4 linked regions of the Homo sapiens genome follow. Changing the gene in region 1 together with any one later gene gives a genetic interaction. Each region holds a gene or a part of one and is shown on either strand. Other genes may lie near its edges.

Evidence for each region. Genes that interact genetically often act in the same process or in processes that back each other up.
Region 2: changes in DAZAP1 (region 1) and TRAPPC10 together harm fitness more than expected from each alone (negative genetic interaction), as found in Homo sapiens cells (one large-scale study listed by BioGRID).
Region 3: changes in DAZAP1 (region 1) and SEC24C together harm fitness less than expected from each alone (positive genetic interaction), as found in Homo sapiens cells (one large-scale study listed by BioGRID).
Region 4: changes in DAZAP1 (region 1) and ARFGAP2 together harm fitness less than expected from each alone (positive genetic interaction), as found in Homo sapiens cells (one large-scale study listed by BioGRID).

Annotation. Positions count from the first base shown.
Region 1 is NC_000019.10:1,424,586-1,428,085, reverse strand, and holds part of DAZAP1 (DAZ-associated protein 1), read right to left. Parts: intron 2,209-3,500; coding exon 2,126-2,208; coding exon of another isoform or gene 2,125-2,125; intron 1-2,124. UniProt on the Homo sapiens protein: RNA-binding protein, which may be required during spermatogenesis.
Region 2 is NC_000021.9:44,099,309-44,102,808, forward strand, and holds part of TRAPPC10 (trafficking protein particle complex subunit 10), read left to right. Parts: exon of another isoform or gene 1-758; intron 759-3,469; coding exon 3,470-3,500. UniProt on the Homo sapiens protein: Specific subunit of the TRAPP (transport protein particle) II complex, a highly conserved vesicle tethering complex that functions in late Golgi trafficking as a membrane tether.
Region 3 is NC_000010.11:73,764,872-73,768,371, forward strand, and holds part of SEC24C (protein transport protein Sec24C), read left to right. Parts: intron 1-579; coding exon 580-718; intron 719-928; coding exon 929-1,044; intron 1,045-1,214; coding exon 1,215-1,339; intron 1,340-1,478; coding exon 1,479-1,670; intron 1,671-1,888; coding exon 1,889-1,982; intron 1,983-2,182; coding exon 2,183-2,299; intron 2,300-2,965; coding exon 2,966-3,136; intron 3,137-3,500. UniProt on the Homo sapiens protein: Component of the coat protein complex II (COPII) which promotes the formation of transport vesicles from the endoplasmic reticulum (ER).
Region 4 is NC_000011.10:47,170,380-47,173,879, forward strand, and holds part of ARFGAP2 (ADP-ribosylation factor GTPase-activating protein 2), read right to left. Parts: coding exon of another isoform or gene 3,462-3,500; coding exon 3,380-3,461; intron 3,104-3,379; coding exon 3,047-3,103; intron 2,373-3,046; coding exon of another isoform or gene 2,331-2,372; intron 1,955-2,330; coding exon 1,902-1,954; intron 1,422-1,901; coding exon 1,285-1,421; intron 1,179-1,284; coding exon 1,047-1,178; intron 1-1,046.

The DNA.
Region 1 (3,500 bases):
ACAATGGATGGAGCAGGCCTGACCTACTTATTCTAGGCGCAGTGGCTGACCTTCCTTTAATGCCTGCTTGAAAATATGGGTGGACTAACAACAGAAAGATCCCCCCAATTCCGGGGCTGCCTCAGCATTTGAGAATCCTGAATTTGTCTCACTTTTCTGATAAATCGTAATGAGAATAAAGAGACAATGGATCCACCTGGAGTCAGCCTTGGGGTCTCAGTCTGGAGAGCTGCACATCCTGAGTTCAGAATCCCTCAGTTCTGCCTGTTAGAGAACAGACAGCAGCAGCCACAGAGGCACAAAGCCCCCACCTGCCCAATGCCCCAAGGACCGGCCTATGATGGGAACAGGATCCGTTAGCTCAAGGCAATGTGACAGCAGGACCAAGGGACCCATTTCAAAGAACTCAAATGAGCGAGTCTTCACACACCCTCCTCAGGGGACTGCGGTTCCTGCTTACAAAGCAGAGCGGTCCTTGTACTTTAAAAAAACAAAAACAAAAAAAAATTCTTTCACCCTTTCCTACCTGAATGCAGCAATGCAGTCGCCTGGCATGGAGGGTTAACTACCACGCGGTACCAAACACTCCACAAACGGAAAACCCCCATGAGGGGCCGGCGGCGACGCCAAGTGCCGCTCCAGCCAACCAGTGAAGGCCGGCGCCGGGCAAGCTGGACTCCAACGACTGTCTGGCTTGGAAGGCGAGACCCACACTGAGGTCGCCCAGCTCAGGAGCTCGCGCAGAACAGTCATGGCTGGGGGGACCCAGGGGCTGCCCAGGGACGGCAGCAGGTGTGTGCACTGTACAGAGCTCTTTCTGCCCCGTATATCAAGACCACGCTTTCCCCAAATTGTCAGTGTCGTAGTCCCTTAAAACACTGGGCGCAGACTCCTTGAAGCCCTGCTTGTACTGTCGCGCACCCATGCAGCCGGCAGGCTCATTTTAAACCACAAGCTGCACTCGATGTCAGAACAAGGATTGTGTCTCCTGTTTTAGTTGGGTTCAAATGGAATTAATGAAGTCTGCAACCCAATCTAAGCCACGTGTATACAAAAATAACTACACATGCTACTGTTTTTAAAAAAGTTCTGCTATCAAGACCTCTGGCTGGGGTAGAGGGCAGGGGCAGGAGATAATGAGCACGATGCTCCCTCCAGGACATTTTAATTGAAAAAACAACCATGGCCCTGTCAGAGGGGCTAAGCGTCTTCTTCCGTTAACGGGAGAAGCTGCCGCACCAAGGAGGCCGGGTCAGAATCCCACTGGGCATGTGAGGCGGCCTGGCAGAGCCAGCAGAGCTCCTTGGTTTGAAAGGACCAAGACAGGAATCCTGCAAAAACCTGGACCCCTAAGCTTTTGCTAACTGCAAGAAATTCCACACTGTAGAATTTCTACCAGTTATTTATTTCAGAGTCCACTTCTCAAGAACCTCCAAGGGTCCAGGTAAAACAAGGATTTAGGGACCCCTTTCTGACACATGCCTTCCAAGGGCTGGCCTGGGGGTTGGGGGGGTGGCCTCCTGTCCCTCTCACCTCCGGGGGTAACACAGTATGAAGATGACACAACCAGAGGTCACTTGACTGCATGGTGGCTGAGTACTACCGAGAGCATGTGGCTGGTGCCGGAGTTCCACAGTAAGTGACCCAATTCAAACAACCAGTCCTTCATGATGTTTCCACTGTGCTTTCCATTTTAAGCGGAACCTCGGCTCTCAAAGGTCCCTTGCTGATCACATTACAGGTCAGTGTCAGACAATGGGGATTTGCAGACATCTGAAGGAGTGGTCGTGGAAACCAAGCCTGAGGCAACGCTGCGGTTTCACTGGAGCCAGCCCCAACACCGCCACAGCCTCCCAGCCCCAGCCCCCTACCCGCCCAGTCCCAGGTCACCCAGAGGGAGGGGCTCCAGGAGCAAAGCTGAGAGATCCCCACCCCGCAGGAAGGGTGCTGGGGAAGGATGGGACCCTCCTCACGTCTACAGACCCAGGCCCACCTCACGCAGCAAAGGTTCACAGGACGAACTCGCCCGACCCTTTCCGTGAAGGAATGTTCCTTTCCAGTGAAACCCCTAAGTTGCCTAAGACTTGGTTTGGTCTTAAGGTAAAATAAAACTACAACTACACACTTTTTTGCCCATGATGTCGTGAAAATGCATGTTGACAGCCTGGTCCACTGATTGTTCGTCCTCGAAAGTAATAAATCCAAAACCTAGCCAACGACGAAGAGTGAATCAAGGTAGCAGGGTGTTGTGACACAAAACAGGATGATGAACAGTATTAGGGACGGGCCGAGGGATCGACCTTGGGTTTCAGCTAAGCTGTGTGTGGGGCGCTGCGGGCCCCTGGGGCAGCTGCCTCCCTCCCCAGGAGCCACCACTCGACTGCACACGGAGTGGACAGACGGTGACGTCCGCACTCCCGGTGACGGCTCTGCTGACTGAGGCCTGAGTCAAGCCTCCGCCCCAGACACCCCGGGCTGGGGCTCCGTGTCACAAAGATTTGGAACAAGGAGCACATCTTATAAAACAGCAGCGGAGACAGGGGAACGGTGAGGGCCTCCATCGCTACTGGCAGACAAAGCGCCCCCCAGGGGAGGGTCAGAGGCCCGTGCTTGAATATTCTGGCTCTCGCCTGTGGGGAGATTGCCAGTGAACCCTGCAGGCCGGGGGCCCGCGTGGAATGCGCCATCTTAGTCAGGGGTGTGCACCGTGGATGTGTGTATGCTTCTCTGAAACCCAGGATTCTCCCCCTTGGCTTGCAATTTGCTTTGCAGCTAGTGCTGACAGCAGCCATATATCGTTCTAAAGCGTTAACAGATACAGTATCTATCATAGCTGGTGCCTCGCTAGGCTTACGCAACACCGTTGGGTAAGCCCAAGGAGTCCTAGAAGAGGTCATATCGTAGACATCTATGCATGTTCTATACAGGTAGAGAAACAATGCACAAAGATACAGGCCACAACGGGTTCCAGCAGGTCAGACTCTGCTGCCAGCAGCAAGAGCGAGATGCACCATGGGATCAAAACAGAAAATTTTAAAGGCAAAAAAAATTTAGCATTTCCCAAACACAAGAGTGGCAGTATAAACGAAGTTTAGTGGGTCTGGGGTGGGCGCGGCCCCCGGCTAACGGGGCGGGTCTCCTCCTCTAGGCGCAGGAGTGCGCCGGGCTCTCCAGGCCTCCCCGGCTAGGTGGAGCGTGACACCGCAAAGCACACCGTCCTCCCGAGGCGGGGCCCAGGCGGCACCAGCCCCTCCCCAGATGGAAGTGCCCGGCAGACAGCTGCCCAAGACCTCACAGAACAAAGATGGACATGGGAAGAGCTGAGACCGGGCTGAAGATGGGCTGCCCGCGCCAGAGGCACAGGGTGCGTGACAAGGCACCACACAGCAGGGGACAGCGCAGCACGGGCGTGAGGCGTGAACGAGCGCGGCAGAGAAGGGCCGTGGGGGGTGGGAACAGGCAACGGCCCCCGGAAGGAGCAGCCTACTGTGGGGCCTCTC
Region 2 (3,500 bases), on another chromosome or scaffold:
CCATTTCTAAATGACATCCTCAAAATGCCAGCCTCAGAAGGAGAGCGGGTCAGTGTTCCACGGAGCAGTGGGAGGCAGCAGGAGGCCGTCCTCTGTGGTAATGGAGAGTTCTGGGCCAGGGCCGCTGTGGTTGTTACACGAATCTACACATGTGACAAATGCCATAGAATTAGACCCAAAGAATGCCTGCGAAAGCTGCTGAAATCCAGTGGGGTCTGCAGCCTGGTTCACTCTGTAGTGAAATCCAGTGGGGTCTGCAGCCTGGTTCTATCTGTATTGAAATCCAGTGGGGTCTGCAGCCTGGTCCACTCTGTAGTGAAATCCAGTGTGGTCTGCAGCCTGGTTCTATCTGTATTGAAATCCAGTGGGGTCTGCAGCCTGGTCCACTCTGTAGTGAAATCCAGTGGGGTCTGCAGCCTGGTTCTAGCTGTATTGAAATCCAGTGGGGTCTGCAGCCTGGTCCACTCTGTAGTGAAATCCAGTGGGGTCTGCAGCCTGGTTCTATCTGTATTGAAATCCAGTGGGGTCTGCAGCCTGGTTCACTCTGTAGTGAAATCCAGTGGGGTCTGCAGCCTGGGTCACTGTATGGTACCAGTGTCAGCTTCCTGTGTTACACGAGATGGCACAGTTGGGTGAAGCTGGTGATGAAGGTATGTGACCCCTCTACTACTTTTACAACTTCTTGTGAGTCTATAAACATTTCACAATTAAAAAAAAGTCTACTCAGGAGCTGAATTTAATAAAATGAGCACTTTTGACTGCTTTGTGAAGCGTGGCATTTTTTTTTTTGTTTTTTTGCTGTGAGTTCATGGTAGTAAAGAACATGAGTGACATGACTGCGCAGTCTGGCCCGAGTTCATGCCATTGTGGTTGCCCCAGCAGCGCGAGGTCAGCAGCGTAGAAAGGCAGCAGTGTGAAAGCTATGAGCTTGCGGGTGCCCTGAGAGCCACACTCTGAGAACTGTCACTCCTTTGCCTTCCTCCTGACACTCCTAGGGCCTCTGCATGTCCTGTAGTAGCTCCTGTCCTCAAAGGTCCCCCATCCCCAACTACAGGATGTCCACCTCCCTGAGCCCTTCTCTGCTGCTCGTGGCCTTCTGGTCACTCACTCCCCCTGGGCGGTTGCTCGGTATCCTCATGATGGGAAGCTGTGACCTCTTTACCAGGTCTACTGCTACTGGATGGCAAGGATCCTGTCTTGCTTACTTTCATATCTCCAGGGCTAGTCCCAGTGAATGATCACTTAAGTGTTTGAATTGCATTGAATTACATGATGGTTGTGTTTTAATAATTAATGTTAATAATAACACCTGCCATATATTAAGACACTACCATGTCCCAGGAGTGGTACTAAGTGCTTTACATACAAGGGGTCTTCAAAAAAATCATGGAAGATACGTTATGAAAAAACTATGCATGGATTTCAACACTTTTTGCACCAAAATAAGCTCCTACTCACTGAGCAGGATCTAGTTTGAGGCACTAAGAAGGATAAGACATCAGTTTTAAAAGAGCCCCTATCAGAGCAACATGAATTCTGCTAAAATTAAATCAAGAACCAACATTGGCCGGGTGCAGTGGCTCACGCCTGTAATCCCAGCACTTTGGGGGGCTGAGGCAGGCGGATCACCTGAGGTCAGGAGTTCAAGATCAGCCTGGCTAATATGGCGAAACCCCATCTCTACTAAGAATACAAAAATTAGCTGGGCGTGGTGGCAGGCGCCTATAAGCCCAGCTACTTGGGAGGCTGAGGCAGGAGAATTGCCTGAACCCAGGAGGCGGAGGTTGCAGTGAGCCAAAATTGCGCCACTGCACTCCAGCCTGGGCAACGAGCAAAACTCCGCCTCAACAACAACAACAACAACAAAACAACCAACATCAAATTTATGGTGAAGCTTGGGTGGAAGAATGGTGAAATCATTGATGCTTTATGAAAAGTTTATGAAATTCTTTGGACAGTGCCCCAAAGAATTAGTAGTTTGCAAATGGATATCTTGTTTTAAGAAGGGACGAGATGATGCTGAAGATTAAGGCCATAGCAAGCAGACCATCCACATCCATTTTCAAGGAAAAAATTCACCTTGTTCATGCCCTAATTGGAGGGAACTGACAACAGCAGAAATGACAGCCAACACCGCAGACATCTGAACTGGTTCAGCTTATGCAATTACGCCTGAAGGGTGAGCAAGCGTTCCACTCAGTGGGTGCCAAAACCCTAGTACCCAGGTCCGTGGCCGACCAGAGCAGAGCTTCCCATGGAAACTTCAAACACACGGGATCAAGATCCTGAAGCATTTACTCAAAGAACCATAACAGGAGATGCAGTGTGGCCTTCCCAGTACCATCCTGAAGACAAAGCAGACACGGCAATGGCTACCAAGAGGTGGGGTGGCCCCACCAAAGCAGAAGCAGACTGGTCAAGAGCAGAGGCCACAGCAACAGGTTTTTGGGATACTCAAGGCATTTTGCTTGTTGACTTTCTGGAGAGTCAAAGGACAGCAGCGTCTGTGTATTATGAGATTGTTTTGAGGAAGATAGCAAGAGCTTTGGTAGAAAAACCCCTGGGGAAGCTTCACCAGAGAGTCCTCCTCCACCACGACAAAGCTCCTGCTCATTCCTCTAACAAGCCCAACTTCGTGAGGGTTTCTATGGGAAATCATGAGGCATCCACCTTGTGGACCTGATTCGGCTCCTTCTGACTGATTTTGGTTTCCTGATCTTAAGAAGTCTTTAAAAGGCACCCATTTTTATTCAGCTAATAATGTAGAGAAAGACTGCGTTGACATGGCTAAATTCTCAGGCCTCCCAGTTCTTCAGGGATGGACTAAATGGCATCGTAAGCAATGGCATCATTGCTTACAAACATGTCTTGACCTTGGTGGGGCTTATGTTGAGAAATAAAGCTTATATTTTCTGTTTTCATCTTTGGATTCCATTTTTGCATGAACTTTTTGTAGTTCCCTCATACGTATTCTCTTTCCATCCTTAAAAAGCAGCTCTGTGAGGCTGGTGGTGGTCTCAGCACTATACAGCGGTCATTGAGCCTGGAGGCCTTGGGGTGCTCTTCTGAGTGGCAGAGTTGGCTTCAGACCCAGTGGTCTTGGATACTGCCACTTACCAGACAGAACCCATTAACTGCCAAAGTCACCATACTGTGGAAGATGACACAAAAATTTGAAAACAAAATTAAATCATTTATTAACCTCACAGGAAAAATGCAGTTTTCTGTACACGTCCAGCATAATTCATTCTAATCCAGAACTAATTGAAATTGGACTCAATGAAATAGGGGTTGCCACCGTGAAAGTGCATGGCTTTATCTTCAGGCGCAGCTACAAGGCACTGGGCTCTGTGTCCGCAGTGTTTTGTCAGACAGCGTTGGGTGAGAGGATTGGGTAACGACGGCCGTGACTCTCGCCTGAGTACTGGAAGGCCCGTCCTGGATGACACATCGCTTCCTCTCGTTTCAGTTGTCGACAACAGTAGCAACTGGGCAGTGTG
Region 3 (3,500 bases), on another chromosome or scaffold:
CAAAGGCTCAGTTTATATTCTGCTTATCTCTCCGTCTTTCTCTGTGTGTTTGTCTATTTCTATCTGGGTCCCATTGGGGATAGTTGGGCACTGGTCTCTTATGTGTAGGGTGACATTTGCCTGGGGCATCAGTAACTGGCACAGAATCCCAGGGATACGGGAGGAGGTGTTACAGATATTTGGTTAGGGAAGGAGCTGGAATCAAGATTCTTAGAGCAAGAGTGAAGGGCATTAGAGATGGGGCCAGAAAGGAGAATCCTAGATAATCTTGGCTTTCTCCCTCATATGCCCATGGCAGCCCCTAGTCTGATATGGCCGGTTTTGCATTTCCTCTTCTCTTTCAGTGAGAAATGCAGCTCTGGGGGTGGGATGTAGGAAGAGGGAACTATATAATTTTTACTCATAGGGACATTTTCCTGTGATTTGTCTTTACTCCCTTTCATCATTGTGCTCCCTACTCCCTCTGCAGACAGAATATCTGCGCCATGCGCCTTCTTCCTCCGGTTGTTCTTCCTCATCTCCTGGCTGAACCTACTGTGGTTTTCCTTTATGTCTGATCCCTTCCCCTTTGCGCCTTAGGCTTCACCGTATGTTGTGGACCATGGGGAATCTGGCCCTTTGCGCTGCAACCGCTGCAAAGCATACATGTGTCCCTTCATGCAGTTCATTGAAGGAGGGAGGCGTTTCCAGTGCTGTTTTTGCAGCTGTATCAATGATGGTATGTTCATGGAAGCTGGGATTTGGGGGAAGGTCTTGATTGTATCTTCCTTGTTCTCTATTAAATAGTTAGAGAGATGAGGGTCCATCTTTCAGGAGCTGGGGAAGTAGGGCACATGGGAATGAGGGATAGTGGTGTGAGCTCAGCTAGGGCCAGAATACTAAGATTGAAACTGGATCTTCGAGTAACACACTGCCATGCTTCCCACAGTTCCCCCCCAGTATTTTCAGCACCTGGATCATACCGGCAAACGTGTGGATGCTTATGACCGCCCTGAGCTATCCCTGGGCTCTTATGAATTCTTGGCCACTGTAGATTACTGCAAGGTGAGGGAAGGTAGCATGGGAGGAGCAGTGAGTGGAGGATAATGAGACAGCTGAGAATGGCTGTTATCATTTCCCTCACCCCTTTTTTGTCCCTTTTTGATGCTGACTTCTCTATAGTCAACTGGCCTGCTTACCATTCCCCCTCTCCCCAACATTTTCTTCCTCTGCAGAACAATAAGTTCCCCAGCCCTCCTGCCTTTATCTTCATGATTGACGTCTCCTACAATGCCATCAGGACTGGTCTTGTTAGGCTCCTCTGTGAGGAGCTCAAGTCACTGTTAGACTTTCTACCTAGGTGAGAGTTACAGAACTGAGGTGTTTCCTGAGGTTAATGATAGGGTGTCTGGGTTGACTGAAGAAATGTAGCTTGGTGTCATGAAGTTGTGGGTGGTGGAAAAGGTGGCAAGTCTAGGTAACAATGTCACCTTCTACAGGGAGGGTGGGGCAGAAGAGTCAGCAATCCGCGTTGGCTTTGTCACCTACAATAAGGTGCTCCACTTCTATAATGTGAAGAGCTCATTGGCCCAGCCACAGATGATGGTTGTGTCTGATGTGGCTGACATGTTTGTGCCACTGCTGGATGGCTTCCTGGTCAACGTCAATGAGTCTCGGGCAGTTATCACCAGGTAAGAGCCAGATTGTGGAGGTAAAGGTTGGGGGTGGCATGGGTACCACCATAGAAGGTCATGGAGTTGAACAGAGGTATTGGACAGTAGATGGAAAGGGGTTGTGGCCCAGGAGTTGTCAGATTCTAGAGGCTTGATGACTCTTCAGGGAATCGAGAACTGAGGTATCTGGAATCTGTATAGCAATTTTGGTTGTTTTCCGTCACCTATCTCTTTAGCTTATTGGATCAGATTCCAGAAATGTTTGCAGACACAAGGGAAACAGAGACAGTATTTGTACCAGTTATCCAGGCTGGAATGGAGGCTCTGAAGGTAAGGCTGGAGTATCGGGCAACCTCCTCTAACTCCATTTTCCTCTGACCATCTTATCCCCTGGGATACAACCTCTCTTTCTTCAGTAGTGGGTGACTGTCCAGTGTGTTAGACTGTCTGACATAGCTGGTGCTTAATAAATGACAAGGGAAGAGATGGATGAATAAAGAATAAACAAGTAGTCCTCTCTTTTTTCCTAGGCTGCTGAGTGTGCAGGGAAGCTCTTTCTATTCCATACATCCCTGCCCATTGCAGAGGCCCCAGGGAAACTGAAGAACAGAGATGACAGGAAGCTGATCAATACAGACAAGGAGAAGGTGTGGGACTGGAAAATGGGGGAGGGGAAGGATTTTTCATTACAGAGGAAGTGGGGACTCTACTTTCTTGATGGTGGCTAGGACCAGACACTCCACCCTTTCAAATACCATATCTGTGACTGCCAACCTCCACTGCTGCCATACTTCTCTACTCCATCTGATGCCAAAGCTGTTGGTAGACTCTTGTATTTATTTATTTTTTAAAGAAGAACTTTTGGCCGGGCATGATGGCTCATGCCTGTAATCCGAGCGCTTTGGGAGGCCAAGGCGGGCAGATTTTTGAGGCCAGAAGTTTGAGACCAGCCTGACTAACATGGCAAAACCCCGTCTCTACTAAAAATACAAAAATTAGCCAGGTGTGGTGGCACACACCTGTAATCCCAGCTACTTGGGAGTCTGAGGCAGGAGAATCGCTTGAACCTGGGAGGCAGAGGTTGCAGTGAGCTGAGATCATGCCACTCTATGCCAGCCTGGGTGACAGAGTGAGACCCTGTCTCAAAAAAATAAAAATAATATAAAAGAAAATTTTTTACTATTGGAAAATCCTTGGAAGTAGATCTGAAGTCTTCCATGAATTTGAATATCCCATGCTAGATATACAGTTTTCAAATAGGGCGGAGCTGAGATATTTGAACATTTTCTTCTCCCCATTTTCTTTCCCCCTAGACTCTGTTCCAGCCTCAGACAGGTGCCTATCAGACCCTGGCCAAAGAGTGTGTGGCCCAAGGCTGCTGTGTAGATCTCTTTCTCTTCCCTAACCAGTATGTGGATGTGGCCACACTCTCTGTTGTGCCCCAGCTCACTGGTGGCTCTGTCTACAAATATGCTTCCTTTCAGGTATGGTGTGGGATTTGGGGCAGCAGGTGGCAGCAGGGCTGGGAATATCTGCTTATATATGCAGTGGCTGACTCATTAATAGAAATAGTGTTGGGGCCAGGCACGGTGCCTCACACCTGTAATCCTAGCACTTTGGGAGGCTGAGGCAGGCAGATCACCTGAGGTCAGGAGTTCAAGACCAGCCTGGCCAACATGGCAAAACCCCATCTCTACGAAAAATACAAAAATTAGTCGGGTGTGGTGGCGGGCGCCTGTAATCCCAGCTACTCAGGAAGCTAAGAATCCCTTGAACCCGGGAGGTGGAGGTTGTGGTGAGCCGAGATTGCGCCACTGCACTCCAGCCAGAGCGACAGAGTAAGACTCC
Region 4 (3,500 bases), on another chromosome or scaffold:
TCATGCCTGTAATCCCAGCACTTTGGGAGGCTGAGGCAGGTGGATCACTTGAGGTCAAGAGTTCGACATCAGCCTGGCCAACATGGTGAAACCCCATCTCTACTAAAAATACAAAAAATTAGCCAGACACGGTGGTACACACCTGTAATCCCAGCTGCTTGGGAGGCTGAGACAGGAGAATCACTTGAACCCAGGAGGTAGAGATTGCAGTGAGCCAAGATCGTGCCATTGCACTCCAGCCTGGGTGACAGAGTGAGACTTTGTCTCAAAAAATAAAAATAAAAAGCCATAGCAGCCAGACATGGTGGCTCACATCTGTAATCCCAGTACTTTGTGAAGCCAAGGTACTTAAACCCAGGAATTCGAGACCAGGCTGGACAACATAGCAAAACCCTGTCTCTACAAAAAGTAAAAAAATTAGCTGGGCATGGTGGCTCCCGGCTGTGGTCCCAGCTATTTGGGAGGCTGAAGTGGAAGGATCACCTGAGCCCAGGAGGCAGAGGTTGCAGTGAGCTGAGATCACACCATTACACTCCAGCCTAGGCAACAGAGCAAGAATCTGTCTCAAAAGAAAAAGAAAGAAAACCACAGCAAACCGAGTGGTTCTGAAACAGGAAGGATTCCACCCAAACTGAGGGCATTTGAAATGTGGGGGATATGTGAGGGTATTACAGGGAGCACAAATGGCATCTCTAGACAGGAATTAAGGATGATACTAAATGCACCGCAATTCTCAGGGAGGTCTGGAAAAATAAACTGTCCCATGACTCAAAGTGCCATCAAGAAAAACCACCCTAGTCTCTTGAAGATACTGAAATAACACCTGATCCTGTGTTTTGTTCACATACCTATTCAGTCATTCAACTTACTGAGCACATACCTACTATGCGCCAAGCACTGTATTAGGGACTTTAGAACAATAAGCCAAGTGATCTATTCAGACTTGGAGAAACAATAAGCCTAGCATCCCAAACTGCTAGGAAGGCCCCGCAATGGTTCCCAGAAAACAACGGCATTTCCCTGCCACACCCGGAGCTGAGCCTCACCTTCGGGATACCAAGCCCATGCCCAACCTTTCTGCCTGCTCTCGCTTCTTCCCTTCCAGATTCTGTAGCTTCTTTTCCTCTTTCTTACGATCAATCTGGAGCTCCTGGTAGGCCAGACGCATGGAGGCGACCCTTAGGGGGAACAAAGGTGTCAGTGGCCACCACCCATCCTGACCTGTCCAACATACCCACCCACCAAGCCCCGCAGAAGCCTGAGGCCCCGGCAGCAAACACTTACATGGACTCCTCCGCCTGCTTCTTGGCATCGGCTGCCTGCTGCTCACGGAGCTTCTCTGCCACCTGAGCCTGCCGCTCAATCTCACTGAAGCTCTGGCTGCTCACCTTCTGGGCCCCTAGGCCTTTCTTGGCACCCAGCTGGGAACAGAATCATGTAAGGGGCCTTCCCAATCACACTCTCCTCAGATCCCTCCCAGGTTCAGGCACTGTAGCCACACCCACAAGGAAAAGGCCCTTCTTAAAATTTAGGGTAAAAAACAGGAGCCCAACCAGCATGGCCAAGACAATAGTGCTCCGCTGGAGCTGGGCATGGGCGGCTCACACAGCCCCAGCAGAGCCCGGGCCTGAGGACGGCAGTTAATGCTGACAGGGCCAAGTATGTGCCAAGCACTCCGCCAAGCACTAGATGTGCTCCATCTCACCGACTCCTCCCAGCAGCCCTTGAAGACAGGCTTTAAATCCCTTTAAATCTTTAAATCCCTTTCACAGGCGAGGTTCGGAGAAACACAGTACCTTTGCCAAAGTCATATAGCTGGTAAGTGGTAAGGTCAAGGAGTGAACCCAGGTAGCCTGCACCCAGCTCCTAACCCCTCTACCATACCACCTCTCCCCACCTACCCCTTTCTTAGCTGCTGCTGGCTTCTTCTTGCCAATGATGGAGCTTTTCAGTTCTGCGTGAGAAACGGGTAGGCATGAGCTAAGACAAAGGCAGCTCAGAGGCAGTAGCTCAGTATACACCATGCAGCTTCATGGCAAGAGCTCCTAAGAACAGCTTCAGGCAAGGGAAGGCAAAGCTGCCACCACCAGCTCCAACCAGCGGTGTCAAAGCCAAAGACAGACGTGGCTGGGGTATTTACTGGCACCCAGCAGAGTGAGACAGGAACCTAGACCTGAAGCACCAGAGACGTCCGAAGCACCAGAGACGTCCAAATTCCCTGAACCAAAACAAAGACTGCGAGGCAGGGAGCATATGGTGAGCACCAGGCTCCGCTTCTAAAGCAGGAAGCTGAGAACAGGGGCTGGGCTCCCCAAGCAGCTGTCAGTTACCTCTGGCAGGAAGGGCCCCTTTAGCTGACAGATACACGGACTCTGGAGGAGAAACAGACTTGTGGCTAACAAGAGGCCCACCCCAGAGCCTCCACAGAGCTCCCAAGCCCAGCGGTCTCTATGAAGCCCTGCTTCAGACCAAGCTATGCCAGCCTTCTCATGGATCAGTCTGACAGTCACTCTGCTGGGTTCCAGCCCCAACCCCCAAGAGTCAACAGAACAAACCGAGGTCAGCAAATGGACTGTTCGCCCTGAACCAAGTCTGAAAGACACTAAGGAAAATGTAGGAAAGAGTTAAAGGACAGGCTGGGGTACTGGCTGAGAAAGAACAATGTCACCTCCAGCCTTCGGCAGCTCAGAGCTGTCCCTCCACCCCCGGAAATGCACCAGACAAGCCAGCCCTGCCTCAGAGCCCAGGGATAGGTGTCCAGTCTCATGCTGGCCTCCCCAACACTTTGGCTAGACCCAGCCCCACACTCAGAGGCAGACCCCAGGCCTTATACACCAGCCCACCCAGATTCATCAATTCAAAGGGCTTGGCTCTAAAATCAGTGTTGCATCCACTATTTCAATCACAGTCCCCACTCCAGAGAATCAGATAGATGCTCAGTCTCCTGTGGCCTCTGTCCACACGGCCAGGCAGTAGGACCTCTGAAAAGAACATTTGAGGTCCACCCTCTCCCAGACACCCCACGCCTGCCCGCTGGCATACTGACCCAGTGAGGCTTTGGGTGAGGTGCCAAGCAGGTCTGTGTTGGGGCCATGCTCCGGCTCTGTGGATGCAATGGTAGGAGTTAGAGATGAGCTCCTAGCTTCCTGCAACCTCCCCTTGAAAGAAGTGATGGGACAAGAATCGGTGGCTTTCCTCAGCTTGCCACCAAAAGATAAAAGGAATATCTACCACTTCCTCCAAGGATTAAAATGAATCCCGGCCCACCCAAAGATACAGGAGGACCCCTGCTCCTATTGTCATGGCCAGATGTCCCCTTCCAAACCCTGAGTCCTCTCCTAGGACCAGGGCACCTGGTTGGAATCTGGGCTGAACTCACGTGCCAGGCCACTGCTCTCTGTAGACGGGGCTGGCTGCTGGGTCCCTGAAGGCTCAGTGGCTGGCGCATCCCAGGCAGGGGGCTGAAAAGGAGGCCAGATCACAGATGCCTCGGTGAGCCA